Homo sapiens: one gene and its partners. The protein of the gene in region 1 purifies or fractionates together with the protein of each later gene. This does not show direct contact. Each region holds a gene or a part of one and is shown on either strand. Other genes may lie near its edges.

Region 1 (3,500 bases):
TTGCTGATGAATAGTATGGTCCTGGGAAATGATCAGATGAACTAATGTCTCCATATTATCTCGATCATGAGAAACTGTGTCCTGCTTAATTTTAGCCAGTTTCCGGAAAGTTTTCCTGACTATTCTTTTTTGTTTATCTGGTGGTAAAGTCTTCATGTAGTTTGCTGGGCTGAGCTCCCACAATTTTTCTGTGTTTTGCACTAATTTGGCTTCAGCTGTCCGCCACAAAGGAACTGGAAGAAAAGCATCTGCTTTAACCAAAACAAATTGCATATTGGGCTGCTCATCTCCCCACGCTTTCCAAAGCTTCAGGATTCTAGTTAGTGGAGGAAGAACCCTTTCGGAGCCTCTCCACTTCTCTATGATGCAGTAATCACTGGGCTTCCCCAGAAGAAATCGTTTCTCTCCAAACGTAGCCTCATGTTCCTCAAGCAAAGCCTGGATGACATCAGCAGAGGTGGTGCGTTTAGTCAGCCCACAGACAAGCTTCTCTTCTTGGCAAACCCAAACCACAATTTCCTTCTCTTCTGAATCCATGTCTTTAGTTGGAGATCTGAAAGAAAAACAAAAGCACATTATATTTCTGTCATTGCCTGTGTAAACTCAGAAAGATGGTTTAACATTAGTATGCTTTCTAGATTTTTACCCTTAATGAGAGAGGCATTTTTTTTCTGTCGCCCAGGCTGGAGTGCAGTGGTGCGGTCTCAGCTCACTGCAAGCTCCGCTTCTCGGGTTCACGCCATTCTCCTGCCTCAGCCTCCCCAGTAGCTGGGACTACAGGCACCTGCCACCAGGCCCGGCTAATTTTTTTTTTGTATTTTTAGTACAGACGGGGTTTCACCATGTTAGCCAGGATGGTCTCGATCTCCTGACCTTGTGATCCACCCGTCTCGGCCTCCCAAAGTGCTGGGATTACAGGCGTGAGCCACTGCGCCTGGCCGAGAGAAGCATTTTTAAGTTGAGAATAAGAGTCAGAAGATTGGCCGGGTGTGGTGGCTCACGCCTGTAATCCCAGCACTTTCGCAGGCCGAGGCGGGTGGATCACCTGAGGTCAGGAGCTTGAGACCAGCCTGGCCAACATGGATAAACCCCGTCTCTACTAAAAATACAAAAATTAGCCAGATGTGGTGATGGACACCTGTAATTCCAGCTACTCAGGAGGCTGAGGCAGGAGAATTGCTTTAATCCAGGAGGCGGTGGTTGCAGGGAGTGGAGATTGTGCCACTGCACTCCAGCCTGGGCAACAGCGTGAGACTCCATCTCAAAAAAAAAAAAAAAAAAAAAAAAAAAAAGTCAGAAGATATAATGCAAGAAAAATATAAAAACCATGGAAAGAATCTTAATTATCTTTTTATTTCCTAGTGTGCTCTGGGAAGAGCAAACTTTCATTCAAGAAAACTGAGGCTATTTTAATTAAAGCATAGGTAGCGATAGTGAAATCATAGAGTTAAAAATAGTACAAAATGGAAAAATCGTCATTCTTTTTCATTAACAATTGTTTATTTCATGCCAACTATATGCCAGACACACCTGAAGATACTAAGGATATAGTAATAAACAAAGAAGACAAGAATGCTGACATGAATATGTAACTAATGTAATATCAAATCACAGTAAATGCTATGAAGAAAATTAAATGGGGCAAAGGAATAGAAAACGACCTGGAAGAAGGGCGGACTATTTTACTTAAAGTGCTTAGGACAGTCTTCCCCAAGGAGGTGACATTTGAATAGGGATATCCATTATCAAAAAGAGGCAATCAGAGTTCTCAGGAAAGAATTCCAGGAACAATGAGCAGAAGTATAAGGATCTAGGGACAGCAATACTGTGAATGTAGTTGAAAGCTGAGGATAGCAGAGTTGGAAATTGCTGCTGGTGGGAAGGAGAGATTAAATAATAGGCAACAGAGGGGATGGAGAAAAGCAACATCTCCTTTCTCCATCCCCTACTTTAGAGAAGGGGGAAGCCAAAGAAAGTGTTAGCTAACACCTTCCTAAGCTAAAGCAACTGGAAAGTTTTAAGTAGAGGTAAAACTAATTTATGCTTTACATATGTCTGTCTTCTGTTTGTGAAATGGACTGGAAAATAGAAAAAAATAGAAGCAAGAAGCCTATTCCATCAGTCTAGAAAATAGATGATGATTTCCTGGACTAGAGTTTTAACAGTACAGATATCATAAAGGAATCAGAGTTGGGATATAGATGATTAGACAGATAGATCCCCCCTACCCAGCACGGAGAGGCACACACATGTATTTATGTAAATATACATGTATATATGGGCTTGATAGTACTTTTCTCTGTTCTATAGAAGGTCAAGGGGAAAAAAACACTTCAGTTCTCTGGAGAAAAAATGACACAGGTAGTAAAAGAAGCAAAAATTCCATGATGTCTAGATCATACCTATTGGAACATTTTTAAGATCATACTTTCCATCATGACTATGCATCAAGTTGACTGTGTCTTTCATAATGCCTCTTTAAAAGAATGCTAAGAAACAAATGACATGAAATTAGTTATGCTACAATGTGATTTATGATGGTATAACAGTTTTGAGTAGTAATTGGCTTCTTGTGAAAGTTAAGTCAAATCATTTATCACTTTATTTATATAGTGCACTCAAAGGATATGACTCCAGGGACCACTTACCAAAGAAAATTTCCCTGCCTTCTATAATAATTTAACATTTAGAATTTATAGTGTTTATGTTTTGGCAGCAATAGTGATTAATTCTATGTTGCTATCTTTATTTTAAATTAACTAACTCTTATACTTTGGTTATTGACTCACATGAAGTAAAAAAGTTATTACTAAAGGTGAAAGATACATCAGGGATGCCAAGTAACACTAAAGATTAGGTCCAACTCCTAACAAAAAATTTCCAGGAAAATATAAGTATTCACATGGAGGAAGTAAAATGTTATAGTTTATTACTCAAAAAATCACACCAAGTTGTGTTAATTCTCTTATAAAATATTTTGCACTTAATGACTCAATACTGAGTATTATATTTTGAAGTAAGTATGATATTTGACAATGTTTATAATTCATCATTTAATAATTGCAAGTAGCAAAAGAGTAGGTTAGAAATTAGAATACCAAACTTACTTTCATATTTTGATTAGTAGAGATATAAGACACAAATACTGTCTAAACAAAAACAAGTAAGTTCTTTAAGTAAGTGATACTAACTTACTGTGTTATGGCTATATAGCACAAGTCAGCTCTAAATAAATCCTTACCTTAATATGTTTTAATTATGTGCATGCAATATCCAAAATTAGTATAACATTTTTTGTACCACATAGAGTTAATTTACTTCAACTAGGATATTTGAAAAGCAATAAACAATATTCTATGTACTTATTGCATGTTAAATTACAAAATTTTATTTTAAAATAAATAATGGTAAAAATAAAATTAAATAGTGGTCATAATTATCAACCTTATAATGCTAATAGTTATTATGTTAAAACTAAGGACAAATTTGTTTTATGTTAT
Region 2 (3,500 bases), on another chromosome or scaffold:
AGCTCACCCTGGCTGGCTCCCACAGGAATGACCGGTGGCTCAGACAAGGCCCCCATTCTGAGGGGCCAGGGCCCAGGCAGGAGGAAAAGGGGACCGGGGTGAGGCAGAGGAGGCAGGTGTGAGGATGGAGACCCAAGGAGCCCACAGCCAGTCTGGCCAGTCCCGCCCACCAGGTCTTCTGCAGATGAAATGGTCCCTGATAGCACAGAGGCAAGAGGGGCAGTCCAGGGCCCACCCACACCTCTCAGGCTCCTCTACAACACCCCACAGATAAGACCTAGCGTCTGTTTTGCAAGGAAAGTAAGTTCAGCCTAGGGAGGGCAAGAGACCCAGATCACAGCAAGACCAGGAAGGTCTGGACTTAACCCTGGCACCTGACTCCAAACTCCCTTCCCCTGCCCACCCTGGAGCCACCGGTGGGCGAGGCCGGCTTCGCCCTGAGCACTCCCTGGGGCCTGCCTCCCAGCTGCCACCTCCCAGCCCTGCGGGATGAATTGGCTGCCAGGTGCCCAGCTCCCACATCAGGCCTTGGGGAGGGGACCCAGCCTCTGTCAGAAGCTGCGTGTCTACCCAGGGGCAGGCAGTCCCACCCCCAGCTTCCTGCCTGGAAGGGTCCATGTGGCTGGGAAGCCAGGTGCAGGGCTTCTGCCTCGGGCTGCAGTGGGGACCACAGGGGCCCAACAGAAACCAGCAGGTCACAAGATGCTGGGAGAGGCTTGGGAGGAACTTACAAGTGCCCAGAGCCAGACAGAAAACACCCAGCGGTGCCCTGTGGGCCCTGGAAGCGGGGTTTCCAGGACATCTTCGGGGCTCCCACCTCTGGCAATCCTTGGGCCAACCATGGAAGCTGAGTCTGCCGCCCTCTCTGTAAATGGGGCCCTGATGACGCCTCCCAACGGCCTGGCAAGCTCAGGGAGCTGGGCTGGAATCCCACCCACCCAGGCCTGCATCATGGGGCCACCTAACACTGCAGGGCTGGGTTCTGCGACCCTCAGGACCTGGAACCCCCTGCAGGCCTGGCAGCCAACCCCTGGTGCCCTCCCCGCCCGCCCTGGCCTGGACCTGCTCCCAGGGCCTTGCAGGTTGACCGGCTCCCGCCTCCACATGGAGACCAGGCCCCACCCCTGAGGCTAGGGGGCCTGGGAGCTGCTACCTCCGGAGGCCCCCCGAGCCCTGGGGTCTAGGAAAGCGTCATTGAGGTGGGGCTCAACCCACGCTGAGCCTCGGTTTCCTCGTCTGGACAATAGAAAGGGTCCTCTGCCCCAGGGTGTGTGCAGACCCCTAACTCCAGCCCAGGCTGTTGGGTCTCTGTAGTGTAGGGAACCCAACAGGGACGCTGGGGATTCCCCCTGGGGCAACGCAAGGCGGCACTCCCCGCGCCAGACAGCAGGGGGCGCCAGTCGCACACATACGGCCCTGGGAGACCTGGGCACCTACACCTTCCTGCACCTTCCGCTGCAGAACACAGGCCATGTGCCAGCCGGCCCCTGGCACCTCTGGCCTCATCTGCACCAGGCCCCTGGGCTGCCTGTCCTGTTACAGCCCCCGGCTCTAGGGGGCTGGGATTTCTGCAGCACAGGCAGGAGGGAAGCCAGGAGCGTGGGGGTGGGCTGTGCAAGCCGCCCCTCTCCTGCCCGCCTCACTGGGCAGTGGTGGGTGCCAGCGAGGGCATGGCCCGGGATCCTGAAAGTGACACCAGGACTAGACAAAGCCCTAGTGTTACCTCCAGGGCATTCCCGGGGTGCAGGGGCCCCCACCTGTACTAGAACTCAGCCCCCTCGGGCCACACACACCTCCCACTGACTAGGTACCCACTTAGGGCAGATGGGCCCACTGAGTCCTTGCCACACTGCTCCCAGCAGGCACTATCTTTTTACATGTTCATACATGCCTTTTTTTTTTTTTTTTTTTTTTTTTTTTTTTTGAGTGAGAGGATCTCACTCTGTCGCCCAGGCTGAAGTACAGTGGCACCATCTCAGCTCACTGCAGCCTTGACCTCCCAGGCTCAAGCAATCCTCCCACCCCAGCTTCCAGCGTAGTTGGAACTACAGATGCACACCACCATGCCCAGCTTTTTTTTTTTTTTTTTGGTAGAGATGGGGTTTCATCATGTTGCCCAGGCTGGTCTTGAACTCCTGGACTCAAGCAATCCTCCTGTCTTGGCCTCCCAAAGTGATGGGATTATAGGCGTGAGCCACTGAGCCTGGCCTACATGCCCACTTTACAGACAAGGAGAGTGAGGCTAAGAGAATGGCTTGCCCAAGACCAAACAGCTTGTAAACAATGGGGCTGGGCGCCAAACCCAAGTCTGTGGGACTCCTGAGCTGGTGCCCAAAGTGAGGATACCAGTGTGCACCAGAGAGAACTGAAAATAGACATCCACAAAATACCTGTCGCCAAACGCTCAGAGCAACACCATTCATGTGAGCCCAAACATGGAAACGATCCAAATGTACAGCAACAAATGAAGGAATCATGTGTTCCACCCACACAATGGAATAGTATTCAGCCATGAAAAGCAATGAAGACCAATACAGGGTACCTGTGGCTGGACCCTGAGAACAAGATTTGGAGTGAAAGAAGCCTGACACAAAAGGCCACACGTCATGTGATTCCATTTATACGAAATATCCAGAATTGGCAAATCCGTGGAAACAGAAAGCACCAACCAGTCGGTGGTTGCTGGTGGCTGGGAGGAAGGGGGACGGGAGTGACGGCCGATGGGTACAGGGTGTCTTTCTGGGGTGATGAAAATGTTCTACTGTGATGACGGCACAAGTCTGAGTGTCCTCCCTTAGGAGGCTGATGGGTATAAACCACCTCCCACCCTCCACTGGGCACCTGCCCTGACAGCCAGTGGATGGAGGGTATGGGCAGCAGTGGGCAGGGAGGGGGTGTCCACCCCAGAGAGTCACCTGCTTTACCCAGGGACTCTCCAGCATGCCCTCAATGTGCCCATGACCCACAGGTAGCCTTAAAGGAGACTTGCCTGGGTCTGGAAGGGCCTGTGTGCCAGGCAGTGTCTGAGCCCGGAGACGGCCCTCTCTGGATAACCCCCTCACTCTCCCCGGGGGTCCAAGTGCCAGACATGGGCTCTCCAGGCCCCAGCAAGGGCCTCTGGCCCTGGCCCCTCCACAGCAGCCACTTCTCCAGGCTTCATCGGCCCCTCCCACGAGATACCTTGACCCCTCAACCCCCACTCCTGGGGGCCTGCCCGCCGACCAGCCCCGATCACGGCCCCTGCACCTCAGTTCATCCCATTCCTGGGGGCCTGCCCGCCGACCAGCCCCAATCACGGCCCCTGCACCTCAGTTCATCCCACTCCTGGGGGCCTGCCCGCCGACCAGCCCCGATCACGGCCCCTGCACCTCAGTTCATCCCACTCCTGGGGGCCTGCCCGCCGACCAGCCCTGATCATGGCCCCTGAACCTCAGTTTATCACCCGGCCTCCTGGCCTCATGGAGGAGCGACCCCTGCACAGCCCCCACGCTGGCCCCTGA
Region 3 (3,288 bases), on another chromosome or scaffold:
AACAGAGTCTTCTTATTTTTTATATTAGTTACATCCAAGCCACTCTATTGCTGGAACAAATATGGTAGTGGTTGTCATGGGGAGTGATGATGATGATGATGATGATGGTGGTGGTGGTGGTAATGGTGGAAACAATGATGATATGTTACTGCCAATAAACTTCTAAAATGACAGCTAATTATGTGTCAGGCATTGCGACAACAAAATTTCAGATAGTAATTAGATTTATCCCAAGACTAGTTTGTTAAGTAAATGTTATTTTGGTCGCTTTGCAATAAAGAGATTGACATTCACAGAAGTTGAATAATATGTTCCTCAAATCAATCAAACACTAATTAAGGAAAATAAAAGTGGTTTAAATAATACAGACATAATCTTTGATATGACCCAAATTTTAAGATTCTGACTGTGGTTGAAAGAAAGGTGGAAATAAACCCAAATGATTATATAATTTTACTAATAAAGCAGATTTGAAAAGAAACAAAAGATCCATTCACAAATACGTATGCAAAGATATTTTATTCAGGGAGTGAAAGAAAAGTGACAATTGCACAGGTGTTAGAAGCCCATGCCCAGGTGACAGACAGACACAGAAAACATCAACAGCATTTTTTGATGGTTCCCAGGGACAGAGCTGCTGGTCCTTCTTCCAAAGCTCTGGGAACTGACACTGCTGAGGACTTCCTTTCTCAGTCTCCACCTGGACAGTGGCAATATGGCAGCCTCAGAAAGGAAACCTTTTGCTATCAGGGATCATCATGGGCAGATCACTGGCTAAGAGGAAAGAAGCTAACTGTGTATCCATGGTAGGCTTTGATGAGAAGATGCAGGTGAAGCTGTGGAACAAGGTGAGCCAATTATCCTTATCCTTTCATGCTCCTGATGAATTCTGAAGCTGTTACTTGCTCTTGGGTGGACACTTTGGCTGGCAGGGTGGGGAAGGTGTCACAGGAGGACATTTTTGCTGGCACTGCTGAGGTGGGCAGGGCTGTGGACACTTTGGTGGTGGGCAGGGCTCAGGGCACTTCGGGGGTGGACATGGCTCTGGGCACTTTGGCGTGGGGCACACAGGAGGTGGCTGGCAGGGCTGCTTGCACTGCTGCTGTTGATAAGACATCCTGCTGGAGTCTCAGAATCTGAAAGAAATGATATGACAGTGTTCACAGGAATGGACTCCTCCAGAGAGAGAAGCCAAAGCTTATGTAATACCATGGCATATTATTTCTCCAATCTCCAAAAATTTATTTAAACTCTTAGCTCTCTTTTCATGACTTCCTGTCTTCTCCTTTCCACTTTAGCAAGTTGTTTCATCAGCCCTAGGAATTCCTGCCTTTCCTCATACAATTTTTCCAAAGAAAACATCTCTATAATAAAGAAGCAAGCATGTTATTCCATGAAAATGACATCTTCAGGAAAGGCAGTCACAAGTTCAGACCTCCTGGGCAATCTCACAAGCTATTCCTATCATCATTATCTGTTGTAAAGCACCAGTGGGTTGACTTGGGCACAGAGCAAGGGCTGTTCAGGAAGAAGTACTGGCTCTCACACCTGCTAAGACACAAACCTTTGAAAAGGATACCAGGAAAATATGGAAAAGAGAAAAATACTTCATCCCTTTCTTCAAACCAAAACTTTCCTATTAACTTCTCTGTCCATATGGACATATAATTGTACATTTTTTAAAAATCTGTGTAAAACACTGTATCATGTAATCTAATCCTGTAGTTCCATCAACTAAGTACCATCAAACCTATGATCACAGGTTTGGATCCACCAAACTTGCTGGATTCAGGTTAAATTCAACACTTCAGGGCACAAAGAACAGAGGAACTCAAGGAAGCAGACTCACCAGGTTCTCCAAAGCAGATCAGTGCTCAAGTACCAGGAGTTTAGGAGTTGTAGAGCAGAGAACCTCTTTATAGGGCCTGCTACCCCACCCAGCAGGAAGTGGAACTACCCAAAACTGGGCTGGCCCAGCAATGTCCCAACTAAAATGCAAATCTATCCATAACTGGCATGACAGGGATTCTCAAACTGGGAAATATCCTGTTCTGGGATCTTTCCACTGGATTAAGTGCCCTGACTCACTGAGGCCCTGCCTTAGATCTCAGTTTCAGTGACAGCAAAGAGGGACTTGGGGGATTCTCTAACTGGTGGTCAAGGGCTCTCTTTCTTGATTGGGGGCAATGAATGCTTCCTGTCTTACACATTCCCTAAATCATAAAACTTCCTGCCCTGATCCACTTTAGCTGAATGCCATATTGTTTGTACATGAACCCATCTCCACCTCTACTTTCCTTGTACAATTTGCCAATGTGCTAGAAGGAAGGAGAGACCTAACAAAGGCCTGAGTTCTGGCCCCAGATTTTTTTGCTAAGCTGTATGACCACAGCCAGGTCAACTCTCCTCCCTGGAACTGTAAACAGAAGAGCATCTTATTTACCTCTGGGTTTGGAGGCACTGACCACATTGTGCCATCTGTTGATCCTGTTCAAGCCTGAAATTTTCTGCTCCACCTCTTTCTCTTGCAGAAACCCAGATTTTACCTATATTCCTTTCCTCTTTGAGGGTTGTCTTCTACAACCCTCAAAGAGGCACTTGTGTCCCAAGATAGATACCAGAGTGAGATCCAGTCTCTCCAGTACATTTGCCACTGCTACCATCAAGGGAGTGTACTACAGGCTTTTCATTTGTAAAACTGTACTCTTATTCACCACATTAAGAAAATGGAGAAAAGGGAACCAAAGTTACAAGCATTCATTTTAAATCTATGTATTGAACCATGCCTGTATGTTTCCCTGTGAACATCATATAGAGAACAAGATGCATAGACTCACAGTATCTTATGTAAATAATTAGAAGTTTTCCAGAATAGAGGTCAGAGCACTTAAAGTCTGAAATCTAGGGGAAAATATAAACTCAGTGTGATCCTATGTGTTTGCTTTCTCTACCTCTCTTTCCAAACAGGTTTTAGTCTTTGAAAAATGGTATTTTTTAATTTGTTTGTATGTTCTTCCATTGTCTTTTCCAAAAGCTCTCTAGCCCCACAACCTGCTAGATTATCAACTCACACCCCAATGTATACCTCTCATCTGTTCATTTTAGTACACATTGTTCACTCGATACGTATGTTGTCAATGTGAATGTCTTTCACATCTTTTTAAAACTCTTCCTGCAATCAATGGGGCTTACTAAACATTGTATATTAAACATTTAAAACAGTGCTGCTGGAGCTTTCTTATCTGGGCTAATGATCAGGAAGCTTTCCAAGAATGTGATTTTATAATT
Region 4 (3,500 bases), about 77 Mb from region 1:
GTGATCACAGTGCCTGGTTTTAACTTTATATCACTGAAAGAGGCACTGAAGAGGGTAGAAAAGACACACTTGAATTGCTGATTCACCCCCTCCCCGCCATCCCCCAGCAGTGACTGTGGTACAGAGACAGAATCGATGAGCTTGAGGGCGGGAGAGCACAGTGACTGTGGGACTTGGCTTTAGAATGCAATGCTGCCCAATCACAGGGGAAAGCACACAGGGCAGAACTCAGCCAGTGCCCATGGAGGGAGCATTTAGACCAGCGTTAGCCAGGGGTGAACTGCCCATCCCAGCGGTTGGAAGCTGAGTTCCGATTAGCCCCTGGGGCTCTAAATACTCAGCAGTGATAGCTGGGCAGTACTTGTCGTGGGCCTTGGGTGAGACTCAGAGACATGCTGGCTTCCAGTGATTCAGCACATTCCCAGCTGTGGTGACTATGGGGAGAGACTCCTTCTACTTGAGAAAAGGAGAGGGAAGAGTCAAGGGGACTTTGTCTTGCAGCTTAGGTACCAGCTCAGCCACAGTGGGGTACAGCACCAAGCAGGCCCTTGGGGTCGCCAGTTATGGGCTGTGGCTCTTGGATGCCATTTCTGGACCTGCTGTTTGTCAGAGGAGAGCTCACTGCCCTGAAAAGAGAGTCCCAGGCCAGGCACCATTCACCACAAGCTGGTGAAAGGAGACTTTGGGCCTCGAGAGAATACTGGAAGTATCCAGGCAGTACTCCTGTGGGCCTGGAGTAGTGGTGGCCACAGAGAGAGACTCCTCTGTGAAAAGGGGAAGGAAGAGTGGGAAGGACTTTGTCTTATGGCTTGGGTGCCAACTCAGCTGCAGTAGAACAGAACACCAGGTAGATTCCTAAGGTTTCTGACTCCAGGCCCTGGCTCGCAGATTACATCTCTGGACCTTCCAGGGTCATGGGGAACTCACCACCCTGAAGGGGAGGACACAAGCCTGGCTGGCTTTGTCACCTGCTGACTGTAGAGCCCTAGGGCCTTGAGCAAACATGGGCAGTAGCCAGGTACTGGTTACCACAGGCCTTGGGTGAGACACAGTACGGTGCTGGCTTCAGATCTGACCCAGTGCAGTCCCAATGCTGGTGGCCACAGGGGTGCTTGTGTCACCCCTCTCTCCAGGCAGCTCAGCACAAAGAGAGAAACTCTGTTTGTTTTGGAGAAAGTAAGGGAAGAGAACAGGAGTCTCCTCCTGGTAATCTGGAATTCTTCCAGATCTTATCCAAGACCATCAAGGAGGTACCTCTATGAGCCTTCAAGAGCCACAGAGATACTGAGCATGGGGTCCTCCCTAATGCAGATGAACTGCAGAGTCCAAACACTTAGATTACGACACCCAAGTCCCTTCAAATACCTGGAAAGTCTGCCCAAGGAGGACAGGTACAAACAAGTCCAGAATGCCAAGACTACAATAAATACCTAACTCTTCAATGCCCAGACACCAATGAACATCCACATCAAGACCATGTTGGAAAAAATTACCTCACCAGATGAACTAAATAAGGCACCAGCAACCAATCTCCCAGAAACAAAGATAGTGATCTTTCAGATCGAGAATTCAAAATAGCTGTTTTGAGGAAACTCAACAAAATTTTAGATAACACAGAGAAAGAATTCAGAATCTTATCAGATAAATTTAACAAAGAGAAAAAAAAAGAGGTATTGACTTTAAAGAGGAGGTTGAGAGAGAAAATGAGATGGAAAGTTTATTCAAAGTGAAAATAACAGAGAACTTTCCAAACCTAGAGAAAGATATCAATATTATTATTATTTGAGACAGTCTCGCTCTGTTGCCCAGGCTGGAGTGCAGTAATGTGATCTTGGCTCATGTGACCTCCGCCTCCCTGGTTCAAGTGATTCTCCTGCCTCAGCCTCCCCAGTAGCTGGGATTACAGGCACAGGCCACCTTGCTTGGCTAATTTGGTATTTTTAGTAGAGACAGGGTTTTGCCATGTTGGCCAGGCTGGTCTCGAAATACTCATCTCAGGTGATTTGCCCACCTCAGCCTCCCAAAGTGCTGGGATTACAAGCATGAGCCACTGAGCCCAGCTGAGAAAGATATCAATATTAATTACAAGATTATAGAACACCAAGCAGATTTAGCCCAAATGAGTCTACCTCAAGACATTTAATAATCAAACTCCCAAACATCAAGGAATAAAAAACAAAAAAGAATCCTAAAAGTGCAAGAAGACAGACGTGGTGGCTTACGCGTGTAACCCCAGCACTTTGGGAGGCTGAGTGGGGAGGATAACTTGAGGTCAGGAGTTGGAGACCAGCCTGGCCAACATGGCGAAACTCCATCTCTACCAAAAATACAAAAATTAGCCAGGGGTGGTGGCGCTCACCTGTAAACCCAGCTACTCGGGAGGCTGAGGCAGGAGAATCACTTGAACCCAGGAGGCAGAGGCTGCAATGAGCAACCATTTATTGCATTCCAGCCTGCGCGGCAGAATGAGACTCCATCTCAAAAAACAAAAAAACAAAAACAAAAATTAGCTGGGCATGGTGGCGCATGCCTGTACTCCCAGCTACTTGGGATGCTGAAGCACAAGAATCACTTGAACCCAGGAGGCAGAGGTTGCAGTAAGCAGTGATCCCGCCACTGCACTCCACAGCCTGGGCAACAGAGGGAGACTCTGTCTCAAAAACAAAAAAAATTCAGTAACATTTCTATATGCCAACAGGGAACAATCTGAAAAAGAAATTAAGAAAGATAATTCCATTTACAATAGCTATAAATAATATAAAATACCTAGGAATAAACTTTACCAAAGAAGTGAAAGATCTCAACAATAAAAACTATAAAATACTGATGAAAGAAATTGAAGAGGACACACAAAAACATGAAAAGAGATTTCATGTTTCTGGATTGGAAGAATTGATATTGTTAAAATTCCGTACTACCTAAGGCAATCTACAGGTTCATTGCAATCCCTATCAGAATACTAATGACATTCTTCACAGAAATTCTACATCCTAAATCTTAGGACTTTTGTAAAAAAAATCATAAAATTTTTATGGAACCATAAAAGACCTAAAATAACCAAATCTATTCTGAACAAAAAGAACAAAGCTGGAAGAATCACATTACATGACTTCAAATTATACTGCAAAGCTATAGTAACCAAAACAGCATGGTACTGTCATAAAAACAAATACATAGACCAATGGAACAGAATAGAGAACCCAGAAACATGTCTAGGGTGAACTCATTTTTGACAAAGGTGACAAGTGTATACACTGGAGAAAGCACAGGCTCTTCAATAAATGGTTCTGGGAAAATTGGATATCCATATGCAGAAGAATGAAACTAGACCCTCATCTCTCTCCATATAGAAAAATCAAGTCAAAATGGATGAAAGATTTAAATCTAATACCTCAATCTATGAAACTATTATATATAAGAAAACTTTGGGGAAACTCTCCAGAACATTGGTCTGGGCAAAGATTTCTTGAGTAATACCCAAGGAGCACAAGAAACCAAAG

Evidence for each region. Proteins that work in one complex are often made in the same cells at the same time.
Region 2: the proteins of RASSF9 (region 1) and CCDC85C purify together in Homo sapiens (affinity purification with mass spectrometry; one large-scale study listed by BioGRID and IntAct). This does not show direct contact.
Region 3: the proteins of RASSF9 (region 1) and SPRR2E purify together in Homo sapiens (affinity purification with mass spectrometry; one large-scale study listed by BioGRID and IntAct). This does not show direct contact.
Region 4: the proteins of RASSF9 (region 1) and A2ML1 purify together in Homo sapiens (affinity purification with mass spectrometry; one large-scale study listed by BioGRID and IntAct). This does not show direct contact.

The regions. Positions count from the first base shown.
Region 1 is NC_000012.12:85,805,410-85,808,909, forward strand, and holds part of RASSF9 (ras association domain-containing protein 9), read right to left. Parts: intron 554-3,500; coding exon 1-553. UniProt on the Homo sapiens protein: May play a role in regulating vesicuar trafficking in cells.
Region 2 is NC_000014.9:99,517,208-99,520,707, forward strand, and holds part of CCDC85C (coiled-coil domain-containing protein 85C), read right to left. Parts: intron 1-3,500. UniProt on the Homo sapiens protein: May play a role in cell-cell adhesion and epithelium development through its interaction with proteins of the beta-catenin family. May play an important role in cortical development, especially in the maintenance of radial glia.
Region 3 is NC_000001.11:153,092,635-153,095,922, forward strand, and holds SPRR2E (small proline-rich protein 2E), read right to left. Parts: upstream 1,893-3,288; 5' UTR 1,850-1,892; intron 1,137-1,849; 5' UTR 1,118-1,136; coding exon 899-1,117; 3' UTR 501-898; downstream 1-500. UniProt on the Homo sapiens protein: Cross-linked envelope protein of keratinocytes. It is a keratinocyte protein that first appears in the cell cytosol, but ultimately becomes cross-linked to membrane proteins by transglutaminase.
Region 4 is NC_000012.12:8,825,621-8,829,120, reverse strand, and holds part of A2ML1 (alpha-2-macroglobulin-like protein 1 isoform 1 precursor), read right to left. Parts: intron 1-3,500. UniProt on the Homo sapiens protein: Is able to inhibit all four classes of proteinases by a unique 'trapping' mechanism. This protein has a peptide stretch, called the 'bait region' which contains specific cleavage sites for different proteinases.